Homo sapiens: one gene and its partners. The protein of the gene in region 3 purifies or fractionates together with the protein of the main gene of each other region. This does not show direct contact. Each region holds a gene or a part of one and is shown on either strand. Other genes may lie near its edges.

Region 1 (5,814 bases), on a different chromosome or scaffold from region 3:
AGAGTTCACAGCCTTCTCTACTGACACCTCGTGTAATCCTGAATTAATCCCTAGTAGTTTCCTTAAATCCCTCTTCAGCCCTGGGTAAGTGAGGACAAGAGACAGTAAAATGTAGGTTATTACAGTTCATGTTTCCTCATCTATATGCATGAACTGGCAAGGCCAATGGAAATTTGGATTATCATTGTATGGCAAGGGAGAATAATTAATGTAACACGCCAGTCCACATGACTGCTTTCTTCTCATACTTATGTCACTTTGGGATTGGTTAATTGTAAATCAACTGTTGCAAACACAGTAGTGGGAGGGATGTCTGAGTTAATGTGAAGAAGAAAACAATGGTGAGTAGAGCCTTAATTATGGATGACTCTTGGTAATTCCAAGAAGATTATCCAGTATGTGTGTCACGTGGGTCCCTTGCCTTTTACCTATTGACCATTTCACCACTTGAAAGTACTTTATATCCTCAGTAGGTAAGAAATAGAAAGGATATGGGATTCAAAATATTCAGCCTATGAACACTGCAATTAGAATATGGAGAACAGGGAATCCATTTGTAGGCTCATTTTTTTTTTATATTAACAACAACCTTCTCCTTCAGAAAGTTCACCACAACTGCTAAATCAAAATTAAATTTCAGGGATTTTCTGCAACTTTACTTTTCTCTATGATTATTCTACTCATAAACAATCATGGAGGTGAGCAATAACTACTTTATTCGATTTTGGATAAGTTAACAGGACCCCCTTCTTCCTGGGAAAGAGGCAAAATTGCACAAAATTGAGAGGCGAGCAACTGTAAGATGATGGTACCTTCTAATTCCAATAGCTTTTTACAATAGAGAACCCAGTTACTTGGATAAATGTTGGCTGTACTTTTGAAAACACTCAGGCAGAAGGACCAGGCTTGCAGTCATTTCCATGCATAGCAGGTGAAGGTAGGTGCAACATACAGCTCAACCTCATGATGCTACGGCCAGAAACTGAAATGTGTTTTTGCCCCTGTGTGGCATGTTCTGATGGCAAAGGTGTAGGCAACCAACTGGGCCCAACCTACCTTTCCCTACACCTGGTCACTTTTCAAAGTGCAAACCCACTTTAACAAACTCTAGCCTGTATTATAGGAGGAAGGATCTGGGTGGTGCAGACGTGGCTTTCCATTGCCAGATCAGAAGGGTGGAGGAGAGGCTGGCAGGATGACAAGAATGAATGAACACACCAAGTTTCAGCTCCTATCTGAAGCTGCTCAGTTCAGGTAAGCATTTAGAGAAGCCAGTTGCAATAACTAACAGGGCAAATGTTTCTCTGGAAAATTCCAAGCCAGAGAAAATTGAGAAAAAGAGGGAAGGATGGAAAGCAGTACAAAGAGAAGCCAGCTCAAAAGGTTAGAGGTCCAGATGAAAATCTGAGATTGGAGAATGATAAAAAACATTGTGTGAGATTCTATTTTAGGTCATTATGCTAGGGAAATTTACACAGGATAGGGTTGAAAGAAATTAGGCTATAAGATGAGTGGCAAGTTGCAATAAAATGGCACCCTAAACTCACCAAGTCACTGTTGTCACTGCTATCTTGCCTTAGTTGATTTGATGTCTAGTTAGTCTATTTGTGTGTTTCTCACAGAAGAGTATGTTTTGACCCAGGCTGACAGATACTGTTGATTCTGAAATTTGTTTTTATGGTTATGTTAAAACCATTGTCATTATAAGAAACAGAGATGGGAATATTGCCTCCTGAAATCTGATTCACATACAAACTGAATGAACTACATAACAACCACCTTAGTCAGATACTATTTTGAAACCTGGTTCAAAACCTAAATGCTTATAAGATTCTTGAGAGACAGTGCTGTGCTCTGAGTCATAGGGAAGCCATCCCAGAAGCCAGGTCTACTCATCAATAAGCAGCTGCCTGTGCAGAGTGCAGGCTGCACCTTTGGACAGCCTTTAAAACTGAATTCTCAGAATTTTAGAACAAATTTTTGTCTAGAAATGCTGACTTTGGTTCATTAGGTAGTGGTAAAACAGGCTCCCTTCGAAGCTCTCCTTCATCACCTTCCTAAGTGCATGGGGGAAAATACCTAGGGCTCAACAGTCTTGAGAAGTGTGGAAACATTTTCTTTGTGAGTGAGAACAGATCACCTAGAGAAAGGAGACCAGATTCCCATCACTGCTTCTGGGTATCAGATGCTAGCGTGAGTACACTGTTGATTTGCTTATCCAATTATTGATTTACATTATTGCTCTTATCTTCTGTTGTAGGCAAGAGGTAAGTTCACTAACGAATCTCAAGGAAGATGTAAATGGCCAATGATCATGCTCAGAGGCCTGAAATCTCTCCAGGTCGCCTCCTTGGAGGGATGCTTTTCTGGTGGGGCAGCTTTTATCACCATACACAAATGTGCTTGGGTTTGGATTCTGCTGGAGAGAACACTGTGACCCGTGGTCTCTTCCTTGGGCCATGTCAGTCAGTCTTGGACTTATTTTGCATCCTATTCTTTACCTCACTGATGCCTGTGTATCCTTGGCTTGGTGTCCCAGCCCATTGTCCATCAAAACCTGCTATCAGGAATAGATCAATTATCAGTTATACACAATGCGCCATGACCCTATCCCAGAGGCATTAGGTCATTTGGCTTCATGTTTTTTTTGTTGTTGCTGTTGAGTTTTAAAATAATGAAATATAATGTAGCTACATAAAGATGAATTCAATAGATGCATACAATTTAATAATAGAACATCACCAGAACCTCTAAAACCTCCCTCCCCATTCTTTCACCAACAAAACCTCCCCACCCACTAGGGGTAACTAAAGCAGTTATATCCGTGGCTTAGTCTATCCACCCATGTAAGCATCCATTAAAAAACAGTTTTGTCTGGTTTGATCTTTTCATGAAGGGCATCTTACTGTGTGTATTCTTTCGTGCCTGATTTATTTGCCTTCTAAACCTTACTTCTATCAGTGGCGTGGGAGCTGATGGCTACTGCTGTGGTGATTTCAGACAGTCTTGAGAAGATGAGGGTAGAGTTTTGTGGTCAGAAACCTTCTTGTGTGCCTTAAGATAGTGCGAATTGAAAGACCATGTCCTGGTATGAAGCATAGTTTTTGGGTATACTAGATAAACCAAGGTCTGTGAGAAGCTCTGGTAGACAAAGGGAAGAAGTGGGTCCCAATGGACGTCTAACAAGGACTGGGGGGTTTAAATCATTAAGACTATGATAATTTTATCCACAGTTGATCTATAAAGTGTACTATGATATACTTTTCACAATGTAAGCTTTCTCTGGAGTTAATAATTATCAAATTTGCTCATTTTTTGGATATTTATTTGGTTTCTAAGTTCCTATCACTAATGTATTTCTTTTCTGATGGGGGTAGATATCCCTCTCCATGTGTTCAATATATTCTAACGCATCTCTCTCTCTGATAGCATATTCACCTTAGAGAGCTTCAAACAGTCAGCATACTCAATTTTAGCATTAATCATACAACGAAAATAAAGGCAGTATGGGCAAACACTTGTGGGAAATAATGTGTAAGATAAAGTCAGAAACACTATGTGAGGTACAACCCTACTTCTCTTGAGAGGGACAGCTCACCTGCCTCCCTTAAATACAATGTTCCCCAAATACAGCATAAATACCATGTTAGTGATTATACACATACATAGCAACACACACATATATATATGTGTGTGTGTACTAATGAAAATGTAATTGGTGTGAATTTTTATTTTATGGATGAGAAAAGGCCCACTCTATTCTATAGCACTTTGCTTTCTTCACCTCTCTGGGACTGCAGTGCTACTCCTCTATGACAGTTGAATTTATAGATGTCAGAATATGAATTATTCCAGGTGGGGCTCGGTCATATTCATCAAATACCAAAATCAGAGCAGGGAGGAATCAAATAAACAATAACAAAAATCAGTAACTACATTTCCACATGTAAGAAGTGCCAGTTGTGCCTTAATGTAAGGATATCTAAATTTACTACATAAAAATACTATGTGATACTAAATATCAAATGAAATAACATTTCATGCTAAAATTTGATTCATTAAAAATATCTATTTGACTACTTTGAATTAGAGCTATAGCTAATATTCTACAGACTTCTTTTAAATTGCTCTATAAAGCATCTGAATATATTTATTTTAATGACATTATTTAAAACTATCATGGCCATCATAAAAAAAAAAGTAGGGAGTGTCTGAGTCAGAGGCTTTATATTTCAGAGTAATGCAAAGAACTCTTTCAGACTCACCCAACCAGCGGCCAACTTCCTCTATGAAGACAGTAAGGTAAATACTTCTGAAGTCCATAATTTAAAGTCTGGCCAGATCCTTTGAAAAAAGACACACACACACACACACACACACACACACACACACACACACACACAGACACAGAGAGAGAGAGAGAAATAAATCTTGGTTACTTTGTGTCTGAGACATTAAACTCATCACACAACATCCAGATCGGATAATGGTCCTCTTGTCTGCTTCTCCACCTTACAGCTTGTCTATGACTGATTTAAGTGGTGTCATGGGAGAATGGCATGGGAATCGGATGCCAGCTGAAAAATTTGTGTTCCATCTTTGAAGAGATAAGTAGGGATTATGTGCAAATCTAGATTCTATATTTCCTGTGTTCTTATTTAAGGCATTATAGGTTGGAATATACTAGATTTTGAGATTAGAATTGAACTCTTTTAAGTGCATAATATACTAATTTGATTAGAGGTTGATCAAAATTTGAAACTATGTTTTTAAAAGAAATACAAAGATTTTAAAATATTTCTTCCAAGAGTATCTGTATAGCATCGTATTTGACTTATTGATAAGAATAAAAATTAATCACATTCAAGGGATTATTCATTTCTTTCCTATATGTATATCCTAATTCAGTAAATATAAAAGCTTTTTTAAAAAATAATGTGTCATGAACTATAATTAATTTTCTATATACAGGCAAAAGTATCCTAAGACTAGATAATACTTTTATCAAGCATTTAAGGCACATAATTTATCAGTTAGGTGTAATAAGTTTAGGTCCATAAAATAGTATCATAACTTTATGTTTTATTGAATGTGTTTTGTGCCTGAATTTTCTTATGCTTTATTTAAAAACTACTTTTTGCTTTTTATTAAACTTTAAAAAGAAGGTTTAGTGAGAAAATATCTATTTTTATTGTTGTTTTGATGCTAATAATATATTAGCTAAAGGATGAAAGGGATAAAAAAGTTCTCAGATTGAAATAGACCATAAGGAATCAAATAGGCTTCAGGCTGCCATGGACTTTTAGACCCTCAAGTCTGAAGTTTGGGATGTAAAAACATCCATGAGTACGTGCTAATTTGTGTTAACTTTAAAATTATAAATTAATTGCATGCTTGTTTGTTAAGCTAAAATATTTATGCAAGAAACATAAGAATATAGTATATTTTTAGCAAAATGAAAAATCAGACTTTAAAACCAAGTTCTTTTATGATTTGAAAAGAACTTTCCTGCATTGCCATGTCCAGACAATGAAATACTGGGTGGTGTCACACTGACATCTTCTTTAGGTAGCTTTAATGTGGTTGTTTTCCTTTTCAATTTCCTTAGTTATTTAACTGGGACTCAAGTCAATTGGTAGCTGTTGGTGGCTGTTGGTGGCTTGCCTGAACTTAGTTTATTTTTGTTAATGTTTTATCTATTTAAGTTGCTTTGAAAGTATTTATAGGGAAAGGAAAAATCACAGTTTTGGTCTCATGCTAATTTTTATTTATGTGTCACCTGATGAAAACTTGGAGGTATAAAACAATCAGTTC
Region 2 (5,226 bases), on a different chromosome or scaffold from region 3:
GAGAAGTCATTTCCCATAAAACGTAGAAGTCAACATTATTGGTCTGGATATAATTGATAAGGGAGAAAAATATCAGAAAGAGAGGTAAGGAAATAAGCTTTGGGTGACATCTGGAGAATATAAGGAAGAAGTGCTATAAACAGCAGAGTTATAGAATGGGAAGGGAGTGGAGAAGTGCCAGGAACCAGGGCAGGAGGGCACAGGCCACACTTGAGTGACACTGAAGGGAGGCAGACAGTGATGGGGTCCGGGGAGCAGCCCCTGCGCCTTAGGCTGGAAGCAGGGAGCACCTTCAGGAGGGACTTTGGGGAAAGGTGGAGTGACAGCTTGGTGAACAGGGAGGGAACAGACCACTTGCCCTCCACATCTGGGACCAAAGGTGATGGGGAGGGGGCTGGAGCCCAGGGATAGGAGGAGTGGTGAAGAAAGGTGTTTATTCTAGATGGAAAAATGAGGACAACAAAGTTTGCAAATGAGTGGTCCACAGGCTGCATCTGCCCTGCAGAAGTGTTTCATTTGGCTTACAAGATGAATTGGTTGCAAATGTTGAAAAACTGAAAAGATTTCACACACGACTCTGGATTTCCAGCTTCTTCTGAAAAGTGAGTAGATCTAGCCACATGAGGTGGGCATTGTACACGGCTGGCTGCAGATGGCTGCGGTGGAGGGCTGGCTGCCTCCTTCAGAGGGGGCCTTGTTCTGCTCTCTTCCACCTGCTGATTCACTGACTCGCATCCCAGTTCAGCCCTTGTTAAGCGACTGAGTTTGCAACCCATGCTTTTATTAGTATCAGTGTAGTAGAGGGTAAGAAAATGAGAGTCAATGTGACAATACTAGGGAGACCATTACTGGACCAAATACGGCCATTCCTCATGCCAGGGGCTTGCTCTGAGCCTGCACTGAATTGTGCTGGCTCAATTCAGCAAGGACCTTTTCCTTTTTCACAAAGTACAGGCAAGCTGGTTCCTCCCCCACCTCTTCTCGGTTCCCCTGGAACGCCATCCCCACAGCTCTGCCAGCCCTACCTCATGAACTTCTCCATGACCTCCTCCACCCACATCTGCAGCCTCAGGAAGCTGATGCCATAGTGCCACCAGAGGCGGAAGAGGTTCAGCAGGTACCAGTCAGTCTCCTCCAGCATGAAGTGCTCCCCGCCGAAGATGGCGCTCCTGCCCACCACCTCGCGCCGGTGCCTCAGCCCTGCAGAGACAAAGAGGAGCCCCTCAGGTCCCCTCCAAGACTTGGGGCCCTCTTGATGCAAATGGACTGGTCCATTAAAGGAAACACAAATGCTATGGTTTGTTCATTTGTGCTGCTTGTTAATAAACAGTAAACAGATGCACTGGGAAAATGTTTGGACTACCAAGTCAATAAAAAAATGAAAATGAAAATAATGTAACATTTTACATTTTTTTTCCCCAGGAGGATCCACAAGTGAGGGAAATTCAGATTTTATCCCAGAATGTCCAGGGGGTGACAGCCACTGGGCTTGTTTGGAGATGGTGGCCTTGGGCACTGAGATCACTTGGAAGTTATCCTAGCTCCTTACAGCCATCCTGCACTCTGCAACTTGACAGAGCAGTGGACTCCTAAACACAGACAGAGCTGCTATGACTTGTTCCTTCCCCACCCCCACATACTACACACACTGCTCTCCACTTTAACAATACACTGTATCTTGGAGATTGCCCTGTATCTGGGCATAAAGACTTCCCCATTCTGACTGCTGAACAGCCTATTGTGTAGTTATACAATAATTTGTTTAACCCCAGGTCCTAGTGGATAGGCAGCTAGGATACTTTCAGCCTTTTGCTATTACAAACAATGCTGTAGTGAATAACTTGGTATCTATGCTACTTTGCACATCTGTAAGACCACCTGTAGCATCACTTCTGAGAAGCAGAGTTTCTGCATCAAACAGAACGTGTATTGGACAGATGCTGCTGGGTTTGAATCCCACCTCTCGCTGTAATGGCTTTAGCTTAAATCTATACATTTTCTGAGCCTCAGTTGCCTTAAGAGGAGATATAACACTCATCTTGCAGGTTGGTAGAGGGGAGCTGAGGTAATGCCTACATACCACCCAGAAGGTGCCTGGCAAGCACTAGCATGTGGAAGGTGATATAATCACGATTATTTAGAGGCAGCAAATTGAAAGGGAAAGAAACTGGCCTAGGAGTCAAACCTGAGTTCTAATCCCGGCTCTGCAACTAACTCACTGTGTAACCTCAGGCAAGTTCCTTCCCCTCTCTTGTTTCTGTTGCTCCATCTGTAAAATGAGATTGGGCCACATGACCTTCTGGCCTTGATGGTCTGGGAAGTCTGAGAAGGGCCCAGTGCTGTCACCAGCCCCAGGGCGCTGGGCACTGGAGCCCCAGGACTGACCACTCACCCAGCAGCTTGACGAAGTCCTGCATGTGCAGGCTCAGGGAGTGGAAGGAGGCAGCCCCGCTCTCATAGTGCTGCTTGTTGACTGAGATGGTGGCCAAGCGGCCACCCACGGTTCCCTTCTCGTACACGTCGATCTGCACCCGAGGTCCAAAGTGCTGCTGGAGAAAATGGGCCACAGCAGAGCCCCCAATCCCAGCCCCAACCACCGCTGTCAGCAGGCCCGGGAGGTAGGGAAGAAGAGAGACAGAACATGAGAGTGAGAGGCTGTAGTTCACACTTTGTATCCTCCTGCGCTGGTGGTTCCCAGGTGCTTAAATTTCCTAGGCTTATAACATTTCCAAAAGGAAATCTGCGGACTGAGTTGTCAGTAGAGCTATTAATAAGCAAAGGCAAACCTGAAAACTGCTGCCTACTATACTTTCGTTTCATAAAGAAAAAGGTATTTTGCAGCAAAAGACCAGCAAAGAATACTGAAAGTCAGGATGACCAATTAAAGAGAATAAATTTAGTTTTATATAAAACTCACTACCTTGCTTCTAACTTTCTTATTTCCCTATGAATTGTTAAAAGTTACTGACCAGTTCTGTTCAGTGATCAGTGTTTGGAAACCAGGCCTTAATCCAGGGATTGGCAAACTACAGCCTGCAGGCCAAATCCAGAAAGATGCCTGTTTTTGCAAACTAGAGTTTTATTGAAACACAGCCATGATGCTCTTTCTTTCAATTATTGTCTATGACTGTTTTCATTTTAGGCAGAGTTGAGTAGCTGCAACAGAGACTGCATGGCCTGAAAAGCCTAAAATATTTACTCTCTGGCCATTTACAGAAAAAAGTATGCCAACTCCTGGTCTAGTCCAACCTACTATCGGACACCTAAATCATCCTTATGTCTGTGTTTGTCAAGACTGGAATGTATCTGCCAGGCGCGGTGGCTCACGCCTGTAATCACAACACTTTGGGAGGCCTAGCGGGGGCAGATCACCTGAAGTCAGGAGTTCGAGACCAGCCTGACAAACATGGTGAAACCCTGTCTCTACTAAAAATACAAAATTAGCTGGGTGTGGTGGCGCATGCCTGCAATCCCAGCTACTCAGGAGGCTGAGGCAGGAGAATCGCTTGAACCTGGGAGGCGGAGGTTGTGGTGAGCTGAGATCGTGCCATTGCACTCCAGCCTGGGAAACAAGAGCAAAACTCCATCTCAAAAAAAAGAGACTGGAATGTACTCTATGATGGATTGTTCATTACCCTACAGGACACTATATTCCAGTTTGAAATCTTGTTACAAAGTTTCAGCTTTTTTGGGTCTTATCATACACTGTCTTTACTGTACCTCCTGCCTTCCTGTTATTTGTAAACTTGGTTTACATGCCATCACTATTCTCATCGAAGTCACTGATAAGAATGTTTCCTGGGACAGGGCTTGGAGGTGCTGCTAGGAAACCACTGCCTGGACAGACATCAATCAGTTTTTTTTCAAACAGGATCTGGCTCTGTTGCCCAGGCTGGAGTGCAGTGGCATGATATTGGCTCACTGCAAACCTCCCAGGCTCCCAAGTAGCTGAGACTACAGGCACATGCCACCATGCCCGACATATTTTTCGTAGAGATGAGGTTTCACCATGTTGCCCAGGCTGGTCTTGAACTCCTGAGCTCAAGTGATCCTCCTGCCTTGGCCTCCCCAAGTGCTGGAATTACAGGCATTAGCCACTGTGCCTCACCTGACACTAATCATTAAACAGTCCTGTGAGAGAACTATAAACCAGCTATGAAGCTACTGAACTGGACTACCACCCTACCTATAATTTTTGCTCACCATGTATCTGAAACACCACTCTCTTCTCATCAGACAGTCCAGAGGCCTTACCCCAAAAGAAAATTAAATAAATCTGGTGTAATTTGTCCTTACTGGACCCATTTGGACCCACAGAGTACCAGTTCCTGCCAGAAGTCACAGGCAATCCTCAGACAGCACCAGGTTCTCTATGATCTGGCCTCTGCTTACTTATTCCATTTCCTGCTTTACCCTCCCAAGATGCCACCTTCTTGTCTGTCTAGGCTTCTCTTATTGTGGGCACATAGCTTTGTTCTCTCATGCCTGGGCCTTTGTCCGAGCTGTTCCCTTTGATAGGAGTGCCATCACCCTGTGTCTCACTGGCTTCAACAGCCCTCAGATGTCACCTATAACTTGGCTTGACTGACCCACCTGAGGTGAGTCAGGTGTTCCTCCTGCATATTCCCACAGCACACTCTGCTTAGCCGTACTGTAGTCAAGTTATTTAAGGACAGAGAGAGAGTGCATGATCACTATGTCCCCAGATCCTGGTGGACAGTAGAGTTCATGAAGTATTTTTTCTGTGTTGAAAGAATAAACCACTTCCTCTCACAGTACTTACAAAGCCACTTCCAAGACAGCTTTGGATTTTATTTTAACCAGTGTGCTCCCATCCCCTCCATGTGCAAAGAGTCCCAAATTACCCATTTTTCCAGAGAAATTGATATTAAGGCCTAGAAGCTGCCCAAGATCAGGAAGCAGAAGACACCACTTCATTGTGAACCAGCTCATTTAACACAACTGACACCAATTCTCTAATTTACAGTAAGATGTCCTGGGGCACAAAGAAAAATCAAACAGGCTTCTGTCCCCCAGGACCCCAGCATGGAATGGGCAGACAGACTCCTGCGCAATTAGCAACGACAACCCATGATGAAGTGCAACAGGGTTCCAGGGAGTCCTGAAGGGGAAGCAGTGAATTCTGCCCCAGAGGGTGTGGGGACACAGCCTTCTTGGGGAAATAAGATTTCATGCAAGATGCTGGAGGACAATCAGCTTTGTCAG
Region 3 (5,682 bases):
GTTCACAGAGCAGTGCTAATTGGCTGGTACAAGAATAAATCTAAGAACTTGGTTTAGTGAGCACCAACAGCTAATGGGAAAAGCCACTGAGTCCAAATCTCTATGGCCAAATTACAGTCCAGTCACAAAGATATTTTTCTGTGAAATCAAAAATATCCAAATATTATACTTGGAACAAGAGAAAGAGAAGGAGATAAGTTAGTGAACTGATTTTTCAGACAATTCTATTTCTGCCACTATCTCTGTCCCCTCTTTGCCTCCAGACATCAGAGAGAGCTAACAGCGCCAGAGCTCCTAAGAGAAAAAATAATTATATACAAGAGATTTAACTTACCTGATGGAAATGGTTGGGAAAAATCAAGTCCTGCCTGGCACCCTAAATTCAAAACAAAATACATTTTGAAAATTAAAATCAACACAGGAATTAACACTGTATAAAACACTCCCAACTTCACATGTGACATAGCATAACAGGAGACAGTAGATCACAGAGTTGCAATCTTTATTCTGTTTCTCAAGGCCAGCATTCCAGGTAACCAGCAAAAACAAATTACAAAAAAAAAAAAATACACTATATGCTGTTTGCTCTTAGTAAATGTCACTGTAGGTCTAAGAAATTCCCATGACAGGTGCCATGAGAGCTTGACCATTAAGGTCAAACATGGAAGAATCAACAGGCTTTATAATCTGCCCAATCAAAATCCCATCCATTTTTACTTACCTGATGGCAGTTGAACCAAAATGAAGAACATAGCAAATAGAAAATAAAATGTCTTCCTGATCAGGGCCATCTTTTAGGGAAGACTCTTCGGAATAGAGATTGGGATTTCCTTGAGAAGACCCAAATGAGAGGCTCATTTTTATTTAAAAGTAATGGGGAGATGCTCTTGATCCGTGAAGTGAATCAATAAAACACAATTATATGCTCCATTTCCCAGGATAAAGGGATGATATCATGGATAATAACCCTTGGCATCCAGAAAGCCTTTTATTTTGGGGAGTCTAACTGGTGTAGTGGAAAGAACACCAGGCTAGAGGTTGAAAGAGCAGGGGCCATGTGAGTTTCCACCATACTAATGCAGGGGCCAGAAGATAGTGACCCCTTTCATCTCTTCCAGCTTCTGTTTTCTGGGAGAAAATAAGAACCCACTTGCAAATTCTGCCTGCCTCTAAAGGTGTTGTAAGAATCTAGTATGATTATAATGCAAAAGTGTTTTGAATATGTGGAATGCTTGGAAGGAGGCCTGGTACCATGTAAGAACTCAATAAATGTGGACTCTCACTTTTCTAGCTTTCATTTTTATTCTCTACAAGTATCACAGGGAGAAAAGGAGGGGTAGCAATCATTTTGTCAAGTTAGCTCTGAGTCCCCTTTCCTGTAAGATATCACCTCACGCACCAAAGCCATAATTACTGCATATTTTAAATTCATTAAGGACATGAATATTGGCCCAGATGGGTGGCTTATGTCTATTATCGTAGCTTTTGGGAGCCTAAGGCAGGTAGATTGCTTGAGCCCAGGTGTCTAGGGCAAGGCATGATGGTTACCAGCTCCTTGCTGCGCCAACAGTGCCATGGTACAGGTGAGCAGCATGGCAGGACCAAGCACGAAAAGCGTGCAGCATACAGCAAGATTCACATTTTTTAACAAATATATGCTTAGGTCAAGCCCTTTGCCAAGTTTACAAAGCTCAAAAAGACTGAATCTGGAATTCAGATTCCACCTCACTACGGTTCCTCAGCTCTTAACTGAAGCATTGAGATATTGTATAATTACTCCCATTTTACATATGAGTAAACCAAAGCTGTTCAGGAACACAGCCAGGATTAGAAACCAAACTACTGGACTCCAGATTTTTTTATTTTTTCTGTGTCTGCCCTACTCTGTCCTCCCTTCATCCCCACTTTCCTTCTTCAAAACTTTCCAGAATCAGAAATATGATGAGCTGTAGACTGAGTGACACCCACTGAGGTTGGGTGGGCTCTGTGCAGCAGAGCATGGAAATCCTCTCGTTTCTGCTAAGCCTCACTGATCAAGATGTTACTTGGTCTGGAGAAATGTATAAATGTGGGTGTTTGCGGCTCTTTCCTCATGGACACGGTGCTGATCTCTCAAGACCCACCCAGTCATGAGGACTTTCCTCTTTCTCTTTGCCGTGCTCTTCTTTCTGACCCCAGGTAAAATGGGCATCTTTACAGGGAAGGTGATCGGAGGTGGTGTCCCACAGACAGGGTCCCCTTCAGTGAATGCCTGGGCGTGATCAACCCATCTACTACAAGAGGTGATATTCCCCAACGCCTCTTCTGTAATTCCTTTGCATTTTACATTGTTATCTAGGAGGGGCTGTCACAGGTTTGAAAGAATAAAAGAAGGCCAGGAAAGATGCCTTTTGGCATCCCATCTCATGCTCACTAACAAAAACAAAAATTGAGAAAAAATTAAAAACAAGGATAGCAGTCTATGAACCTTTTAAAATGTAGTTATGGTAGAGATTGAGACAGGTAAGGAGAAGGGACAGGTAAGGATCTGAGCTTAGAGACACCTATGCACTCATGCCAGTCATGGCAACAGGTAAAGCAGCGTAACTTGGACTGCCATTTCTTGATCACATATCATCAAGCCAAGTACTGTGATGAGAGCTTCACATAAAATGCATCTAGTCTTCCAGTGCCAGCGCCTTTACGGAAAACTCTGTCTTACCCCTAATTTAATGGAAGTTAGAGAAAATCTTTTTGGGTTTGAAGGTCCATTTTACAAATTTTATTACAGATGCAGAAATTGTGCCTCAGATGGGCTCAGTGCTTCTCAGAGTCTTATAGATAACCAAAACAAAGCCAGGGTAGGAGCCCAACTGTCTTGCCACAGTAAGAGGCATTAAAGACACCCTTCCCATATCAAAACTCTCTTCATTTTCTCCTGCTCCTGGGAATCTCCAGTGGCTCCAATTGTATCCTCTTCAAAATTAAGGCTTAAGACCAGGCTCATGTGAGCCTCCAGAGAGCTGAAGAAAGGGATTCTCAGAGCCCACAGTAACTCCCAATTTCTGCCAGATACCAGTGATATACGATCCCAGGTATGATGCTCAACTTTTCACATCAGCTGCTCATAGCTCTGGTCTGTTTTGTGACAAGCCTGTGAGAGTAGATTCTGTGTCAAAACATGAGGATCTAGGACCCACAGTGACCTATGCCGTATTCAGGCCACTGGTTTTGATATGCACGTTCGAAACTGGCCAGAGGTATCTTTTTCAGATCACTCATACTTATTATATAATAAGTCAAAAAAAAGATGTTATATACTATAAAATTATCTGTTAGATAATACTATAATTATAAAAGTATAATTAGTTACTATAATTATTATGTAATTACAGATACTTATCTATAATTACATAATGCTTGTTATATAATTATTAGATAATCTAATAATTACCTATTAGATATACTAGAGTATAATACTATAATACAATAGTATTAGAGAAAATCTTTTTGGTTTAGTATAGTATTATAGTATAGCATAGTATATACTATAATTATTTACTGATGTTACAGTATGGTATTGTACTAGTATTATATACTATATAGTATTGTACTAGTATATATTATATATATATATATACATATTTTTTTTTTTTTTTTGAGATAGAGTCTCACTCTGTTCCCCGGGCTGGAGTGCAGTTTCACAATCTCAGCTCACTGCAACCTCTGCCACCGGGGTTCATGCGATTCTCCTGCCTCAGCCTCCTGAGTAGCTGGGATTACAGGCATGTGCCACCTTGCCTGGCTAATTTTTTGTATTTTTAGTAGAGACGGGGTTTCACCGTGTTGGTCAGCCTGGTCTCGAACTCCTGACCTCGTGATCCACCCTCCTCAGCCTCCCAAAGTGCTGGGATTATAGGTGTGAGACACTGCACCTGGCCAGATACTATATTATACTAGTATATTATTACTAGTAGTATTATATACTAGTATGTAATATAGTATATATACTAGTATAATACTCTAGTATATAGTATAGTATACATACTAGTATAATACTCTAGTATATAGCATAGTATACATACTAGTATAATACTCTAGTATATAGTATAGTGTATATACTAGTATAATACACAAGTATATAGTATAGTGTATATACTAGTATAATACACTAGTATATAGTATAGTGTATATACTAATATATACACTAGTATACAGTATAGTGTATATACTAGTATAATACTCTAGCATATAGTATAGTGTATATACTAGTATAATACACTAGTATATAGTATAGTGTATATACTAGTATAATACACTAGTATATAGTATAGTGTATATACTAGTATAATACACTAATATATAGTATAGTGTATATACTATTATAATACTCTAGTATATAGTATATATACTAGTATAATACTCTAGTATATAGTATAGTATATATACTGGTATGATAATATAGTATATATACTATATTATTACTAGTAGTATTATATACTAGTACATAGTATAGTGTACATACTAGTATAATACACTAGTATATAGTATAGTATACTAGTATAATACACTGGTATATAGTATATATACTACTATAACACACTAGTATATAGTATAGTATATATACTAGTATAATACTATAGTATACACTATTATACCAGTATATACTATAATACTAGTATTTTTATAGTATATACTAAGCTATACTATGATACTATACTAAACCAAAAAGATTTTATCTGAATACCACGCTATAGTCTATAGTATAGTATTATATTAGTATCTGCCTTACAGTAGGGCAGAGAGAACATAGACCCCTGCCAGTGAGAGCCAGAGTTCATCGAGCTTTGAAATAGTGGAGTATTTTCACTTATGAACTGATGTGCTGATCCTGGATAATCATTAGTGCATATGCTGGCACTAATCCACCTGGCTGTAAGTTTTATGTAGATTTGAATTAGGCACCTTTATATGTTGACATTAAATGTATATACATTATAGTATAGACATTAAATGCAATCTCTGTACATCTGATGCCTTCATTATATATACACAAATTGGGCAGCTCTAAAATGTTGATCCTGATAAGACGTGCTGTCTGTCCTTAACTTGAAGCAGGCTGCTCTTGGGACTGCTACTGATAAAGCCCTAAGGTGGGAACTGGAATTCTCCGCAAAATGAACTGAGAAAATCTTAGAAAAACATTCCCAACATGCTGCACCCTCCTTCTCTAAAGCACAAGTTTTCCGCAGTCGTTGCTTTGGTGAATATGGAGGAGAAATCAGGCTGAGCCTTCCAAGCAAGTTTCTATCTACCACAGTAAACTCATTCTCTTTTTATATCTTTATCCCTTCCTTTGCTCTGGTCTGGAGCTATCTCCTCAGTCTCAGCTCTTGCTCTACTCTCACCAAGTAGCAGCCTCTGAGAGTGCACTAGGAAAATTAGCAGCCTCTGGGAGTGTTTATGGGAACAAGTTGATAATTATCCCCAACAGATTTCGATTAAAGAACCATAGCTTAGGGACGTTTCCCAAAGCTCCTACACAGCTTGGTCTCAAATGCTGGAAGACAAATGTATTCTTTCCGGTATTTCACCCTGTGTGACTATGAGACTGAAATATCAGATAAAAATCAGGTCCCCTACCATCTCATTTACCGGTAGGATATGGCACTATGACAGCTTGTGAAAAAATCTTCACCAAGT
Region 4 (5,760 bases), on a different chromosome or scaffold from region 3:
TTTCAAGTCCTACTGTCCCATCTTTAAAACGGAAATAATAATTAGTGGGAGGATTTAATTAGACAACATATCCCATAACATATCCTAACTCCAAGCAAAGTGCCTGGCACTTAATAAGGATTCAAAAAATGGATATTTGTAATATAAAGTTGGCCCAGCACAGGCCTCCTATGCTGCAACATATCACCCAAACTCAGTGTAGCTTACAACTGAAGTTTATTCTTTCACACTTCTGGAAGCAGGAGACTGCGCTCAGTTTCACTGGGCCAAAATCAAGGTGTCAGCAGGATCTTGCTCACTTCAGAGTTTCTAGGGGAGAATCCTTGCCTCTGTGCTGGCATTCCTTGCCTTGTGGAGGCATCGCTTCAATCTCTGCCTCCACAGTGGCCAGCCCTCCTCTGTGTGTGCTAACCACCCCCTTTCCCCTTATAAAAGTACATGTGACTGCAGTTAGGACCCATCTTGATCATCCAGAATAATCTCCCCAACTCAAGAAGACCCTTAATTGAATCACATATGCGAAGGCCCTGCTTCTGTCTATGTAAGGTAATATGCACAAGTTCCAGGACTTAGAACCTGTTATCTCTGGGGAGGGAACATTTTTCAGCCTAGCACACGGGTGACACAGTTTCTATCTTTATTAAGCACAATCCAAAACACCTTTGGACCATGAAAACAGTCTTTTGTCCCTTCCATCTTGTTATTCAAAACTATGTTCCTTATTTTAAAAACCTTTCCTCCCTGCCTATCCCAGAAGGGACAGCGGCTCTCAAAGGCAGCTGGGTGAAGTTTCTGTAAGATCTCAGCACTAGCTCGCGCTGCTGTTTTGGAGGCATCTTTCCAAGGCTTTAATTAATTAGAGGATGCATTCTAGCCCTGTTTCCCAAACTTACATATTCCCGATACCTCTGATTCAGTAGATTGCGCGACGTCTGGCAATCCAATTTTTTCTAAGTGCCCCAGGGGATTCTTATCATCAGCCAAGATTTGGAAACAGTAATTTCTTATACAAAGTCCTGAACTAATACCCTTGAAATAGGGGATTCCCCTTCACTGCCGGGTGTGTCGCGGTTACAGGACTGAGTTTGTTGAGGGAGGAGGAATGAACAACCCTGAAAACTAAACTATCCTACCTTGTATATTATTCACTGAAAGAGTTTCCTGGAGGGAAAACTTCCAATTCCAATTAAATCGAGGATGACGACGGCCCGGATTTGGCAGTCCTGCAGCTGTCACTAGCTCGGGACCTCGTGCGTCTGAGTGATCCAGCCCGGGCCGCGCCCTCACCCAGAGCCAAGGCTGTGAGAGCAGCTCCAGCGAGGGGGCAGGGTGGCGGCGGCAGGGCTGCTTCAGGGCCGGTGCCGGTGTCCTCAGAGCGGCGTTTTGGCACTGGGGTGGGCCGGGGCGTGGCTTTCGGCGCCACCTCTGCAAGCGGCCGCCACTCCAGAGTGGCGCAGGTAGGGGGCGTGGGAAGACCTAAGTATATTTATTCCGGCCTGCGAGCGGGATGCTGGGGTTGCTCCAAGGGACCAGAAGAGCTGCCCTGTGTCCCAGAGCAGGCTGGTTCTTCTGACAGCGCTGAGAACCTGGCGCTCGCGCCTGGCCAGGTAGGGGCTGTGACTGGACGCTCAGAACATTTGTGGGAGTGTGGAAATCTCTTTACGGGTGATGGGGCTCAAAGTCTGACGCAGCCGAGGGTTGATGGGGTGCAGTCACGCTCAGCCAGGGGACTTTGGGGGCGCAGTGTCAGGCTCAGCCAGGGAGTGACAGGCGCAGTACCAGCCTTATCTGGGGGTGCTGGAGGCACAGGCTCCGGTTCGGCCAGGCGGGTGTGCGCGCCCAGGAAGGGTAGGAGCCTGCAGCCGCAGCGGGGGGCGCTGGCTGGGGCTCTGCCCCGCCGGCAGTGCGCTCGGGCGCTGTTCCAGCGCGCGGCAGCGAGTGGCGCTGAGCCTCCGCTTTCGCAGCTCGCGGGGAGCGGGGCCGGCGGGAGGGGCCGGGCGGGGCCACCGCCTCCTCTGATGGCAGGCTCCTCCTCTCCCTCCGCCTCCCTCGCTCTCCACCGCCCGCCCGCCCGCCCGCCCAATCCACAGTTCCCGGCCCAGCCGAGCCGGGCTGCTTGTCTGGCCGGCGGAGGCTGAGCGCGACCCTAGCAAGCCGCGGCGCCCGCCGACCAGGGACAAGAGCGACTCCTGGGACCCCACTCTGCCCCGCGCCGCCGCCTCCTCCCCTGTTGTCGCGGGGACGCTCAGGCCCGCGCCGCCCGGGCCACGATTCTCCTCCTCTTTCTCCCGGAGGGGAAGGAACGGAGAAAGCCGAGCGGCGGCTCCGGGAGAGAGCGAGCCGAGGCCCCTGCCCCCGAGGCTCGGGGCAGGAGGAGGAGGAGGAGGAGGAGGCGGAGGCGGAGGGAAGTGCGCGTCACTCTCGGGAGGAGAGTATTTCACCTCCAGGCAGAGGCTGCGGCTGCCAGTTGAGTACGAGCGGCAGCTGCGGGCGCCGGCAATCGAGTGGCTTCCTGGCCATGGAGAGGAGATCTGGACCCGAGGACGCCAGGGACTCCTCTCCGTCTCCCTGGACCGCTGTGTAGGCACCTGAGTTAACGGACGCTAAGCGGGGTAGGGGAAGGTAAGAAGCGACTCGGTCACCCGCCCCCCCACCCCGCTCCACCTCGTTTGCTGCCCTCGGGGGCCACTGCGGGGACGCAGACCCGGGTCTCGCCCACCTTTTCTGCTCCCGGCGGCCTGGCCGGCTCCGGCGTTGGGCATTTCTGCCGAAAAGGAAAACGTCCTCCCGCCCTTCCCCCGTGCGCCTCCTTTCCCGGTTTCATCTCTGGATTGGGACTGACCCGACTCCCCAGGAGTCAGTCCTCTCTTCTTAAGAAAGGGTCCTCGGGAACGGTGTCTTGATTTCTTTCTCTCCACTCTCTCTTTTCATTACGTTTACGGGGAAGGGAACAATGGACCTTTCAAAGTCGGTGCGAACAGCCTTAAACTTTCTGGAGAGGGATGGGGTGAGGGGATAAACCCCACAGTAAGCCGATTACAGTGAAAGGTTGATGGAATGTGCTTTGCAGTCCGGGCTTCAGTGCGCGCGCGCTTGTGCGTTTGGGGTCATCTTTGTCTCCTTACAATTCCCCTGGGTTGGTGGGTCCTCCGCCCTCCGCCCCCTGCCTCTCTGTTAGCTGAGGTAAGGTGAGGCTTTAAAATCGTGTACAGCTTCCTTTAAATCTGGGGAATAGCCTTAGCCCTGGACCCTATTCCCAGCTTTTCTCTGCAGAGTTGGGAGATCCTGGTAAAGGAGGGGGGCCCTCTCTGTGAGGACCCAGAGTGCTGCTGTTAATAGCACTAGTGGCTACACCCTTAGCGATAAAACCAAGGTCCTGAATTCCCTGGATGCTCTCTGCTGAGGGTTGATGAGTGTCACCAGACTTCGACCTGGAGCGGAAACAGCTCACTTGAATTCTCCGCAGGTTAGGAAAACAGACTTTGATATATATCTCCTTTTATCAGCAGTTGGGATTAAGGATAGACTGCCTAATAATTTTTAAAACTTTCATTGTGCACATGAGCTACTCACTGCCTTGAGTTCACTCCCCTTGATTCAGTGTGACAGAGTGATGCGCTGCTGCACAGTTGCATGTATTGAGATGTGCTGCTCTTCCCGGTAAAAAGTGAGAAGAATTTAGAGAGAGGGGAAAGGGTAGAGGCTTCACCTGAGCTGAGGGAGGCCTGACTCCCCAGAGCAGCCAGGCAAATCTGTTGGAAATGGCTCAGTGTTAAAAAAACACCTTTAAAATGGTTAGCCTTATCTTTCTTTGGTTGGCTAGAATGGAGCTACTAATGCTTATTTGACCCTTGAAGGACGCTTGTTCTTTTCAGAATTGGTCTGGGTATCATACTGTGGTTGTGGGTCTGATTACCTATACAAAGGGTTCTTTTTAGTTTGCATTTCTGGGCAAAGCAGAAGAATGTGTAGTAGGCATGTCCTCTGCTTAGTAAACATTGGGTAGCACTTTAGAGTGCTTTTCTCTTCACACCGAAATGACTTCCCCCAGCTTCTGTGTACCTGCATTAGAGGATCAGTTTGGGCGGAACTGGAAATCTGTCTTCTGGCTTTCTGTTCAGTCCTCCTGACGCTGTTTTTTTCTGATGTATGTGTGCTTAAAGGCTCAGAAAACTAAGATTAGAAGCGAATTCTGAGTCATCACCTGTTCTTATTAACCTGTGAATGAGATAGTGAGCTGAGGACTCTCCTGTGTGTGGACAGGGAAATAGAATCTGTAAATTCTTACATGGTGTTTATCTGGATATTCTGTGTCACAGTTAATTATTTGAGTAGTCTCCTTCCTTGATCTAGTCTGTAACCAGTGACTTTTCAGAAATGTCAGATTCATAACAGGAAACCAGAATGGGGCAACACTTCAGTCATGTTCTAATAGGCCTAATCAATGCTGTCCTCAAACAGCTATCAAGAAAAGACAAGCTGGAGGGTAATGTAGTCTTGTGGGCCATTATCTTGAAGTTGACAGGGTACTGCTTAGAGCTACATGCTTTGGGCAAGTTTCTGAAATTGAGAAAGACAAGCCACATTTTAGAAAGAGGAAACTTAGGCCGGGCACAATTGGCTCACGCCTGTAATCCCAGCACTTTGGGAGGCCGAGGCAGGTGGATCACCTGAGGTCGGGAGTTTGAGACCAGCCTGGCCAACATGGTAAAACCCTATCTCTACTAAAAATACAAAAAAAAATTAGCCAGGTGTGGTGGTGCACGCCTGTAATCCCAGCTACTCGGGAGGCTGAGGAAGGAGAATCGCTTGCACCTGGGAGGTGGAGGTTGCAGTGAGCCGAGATCGTGCCACTACACTCCAACCTAGGTGATGGGAACGAGACTCCATCTGAAAAAAAAAAAAAGAAAAAAAAGAAGAAACAATAATCACTACCAAATTCATGGTCTTAGACTCACATGGAGTGCTGTATGTAAATGTGTGCATTGTGATGTGTGCTCTAAAATATGTATGAGCATTGCATCATTCACCCACCCACCATCCATTCAGCTAGCACTTATTAATCACCTATTGTGGTCCAGACCCTCTGGAAGCAATTGCAACACCTGCTTTGTGGAGCATTCATGTTGGTAAAGAGAAGGAGTTGAAGTGGTTGCAACCCGGGAGGCCACAGGGATTGAAGATACCTGTGTCACTTGCAACTAGAGAGATGACAATCTCTGCTATTGAAGAAATGAGCCTAGCCCCGGACATAAGGAAATGAACAATTAGAAGGTCCAATAAGTGCATGTCTGGGAGAATTACGCACAGAACGCTCTAAGAAGCCAGAGAAGGAACAGTTGGGGGTGGGGGAGCAATTTTGTGAGAAATAAAATTTGTTAAATCAGACAAAATAGTAGGGACTGAAAACTAGTGTCAGAAGTACTATCTTAAAATGGTGAAGATTGGAGGACTTGAAGTCAGACTTGGATTTAAAACAAGGCTTGGCACTTGCTAAACATTTGCTGTGGGCAAATCCCCTAATCCTTCTCACGTTGTTTCTTCACCTGAAAAAGGAGTTTTAAAATGCTTTATGGGAATGTTTTGGGGATTCAATTTGAGTAAGTTTGCTATGTATTAATATATGATAAAGTACTGTACAGGCTAATGCTGTCTGGTATCAAAAGGTACTTTCAAAAGTTTTTTAAAGCTATAAATAGATATAAATCATAGCTTAATCAGGTCTCAGCTACAGATTTTCATTTTATTGGCCCTTTCCAG

Evidence for each region.
Region 1: the proteins of DEFB106A (region 3) and SERPINB7 purify together in Homo sapiens (affinity purification with mass spectrometry, with the first as the bait; one large-scale study listed by BioGRID). This does not show direct contact.
Region 2: the proteins of DEFB106A (region 3) and PCYOX1L purify together in Homo sapiens (affinity purification with mass spectrometry, with the first as the bait; one large-scale study listed by BioGRID). This does not show direct contact.
Region 4: the proteins of DEFB106A (region 3) and CEMIP2 purify together in Homo sapiens (affinity purification with mass spectrometry, with the first as the bait; one large-scale study listed by BioGRID). This does not show direct contact.

Annotation. Positions count from the first base shown.
Region 1 is NC_000018.10:63,773,524-63,779,337, forward strand, and holds the start of SERPINB7 (serpin B7), read left to right. Parts: upstream 1-1,894; 5' UTR 1,895-2,193; intron 2,194-4,257; exon of another isoform or gene 4,258-4,302; intron 4,303-5,814. UniProt on the Homo sapiens protein: Might function as an inhibitor of Lys-specific proteases. Might influence the maturation of megakaryocytes via its action as a serpin.
Region 2 is NC_000005.10:149,360,010-149,365,235, reverse strand, and holds part of PCYOX1L (prenylcysteine oxidase 1-like isoform 1 precursor), read right to left. Parts: intron 2,600-5,226; coding exon 2,393-2,599; intron 1,201-2,392; coding exon 1,026-1,200; intron 1-1,025. UniProt on the Homo sapiens protein: Likely to have oxidoreductase activity. Required in the mevalonate pathway to regulate prenylation and enhances the bactericidal activity of neutrophils.
Region 3 is NC_000008.11:7,823,048-7,828,729, forward strand, and holds the start of DEFB106A (beta-defensin 106 precursor), read left to right. Parts: upstream 1-2,091; 5' UTR 2,092-2,129; coding exon 2,130-2,178; intron 2,179-5,682. Other genes in the region: DEFB105A (beta-defensin 105 precursor), read right to left, coding at 335-376, 722-791. UniProt on the Homo sapiens protein: Has antibacterial activity. Acts as a ligand for C-C chemokine receptor CCR2.
Region 4 is NC_000009.12:71,765,219-71,770,978, reverse strand, and holds the start of CEMIP2 (cell surface hyaluronidase CEMIP2), read left to right. Parts: upstream 1-2,465; 5' UTR 2,466-2,622; intron 2,623-5,760. UniProt on the Homo sapiens protein: Cell surface hyaluronidase that mediates the initial cleavage of extracellular high-molecular-weight hyaluronan into intermediate-size hyaluronan of approximately 10-5 kDa fragments.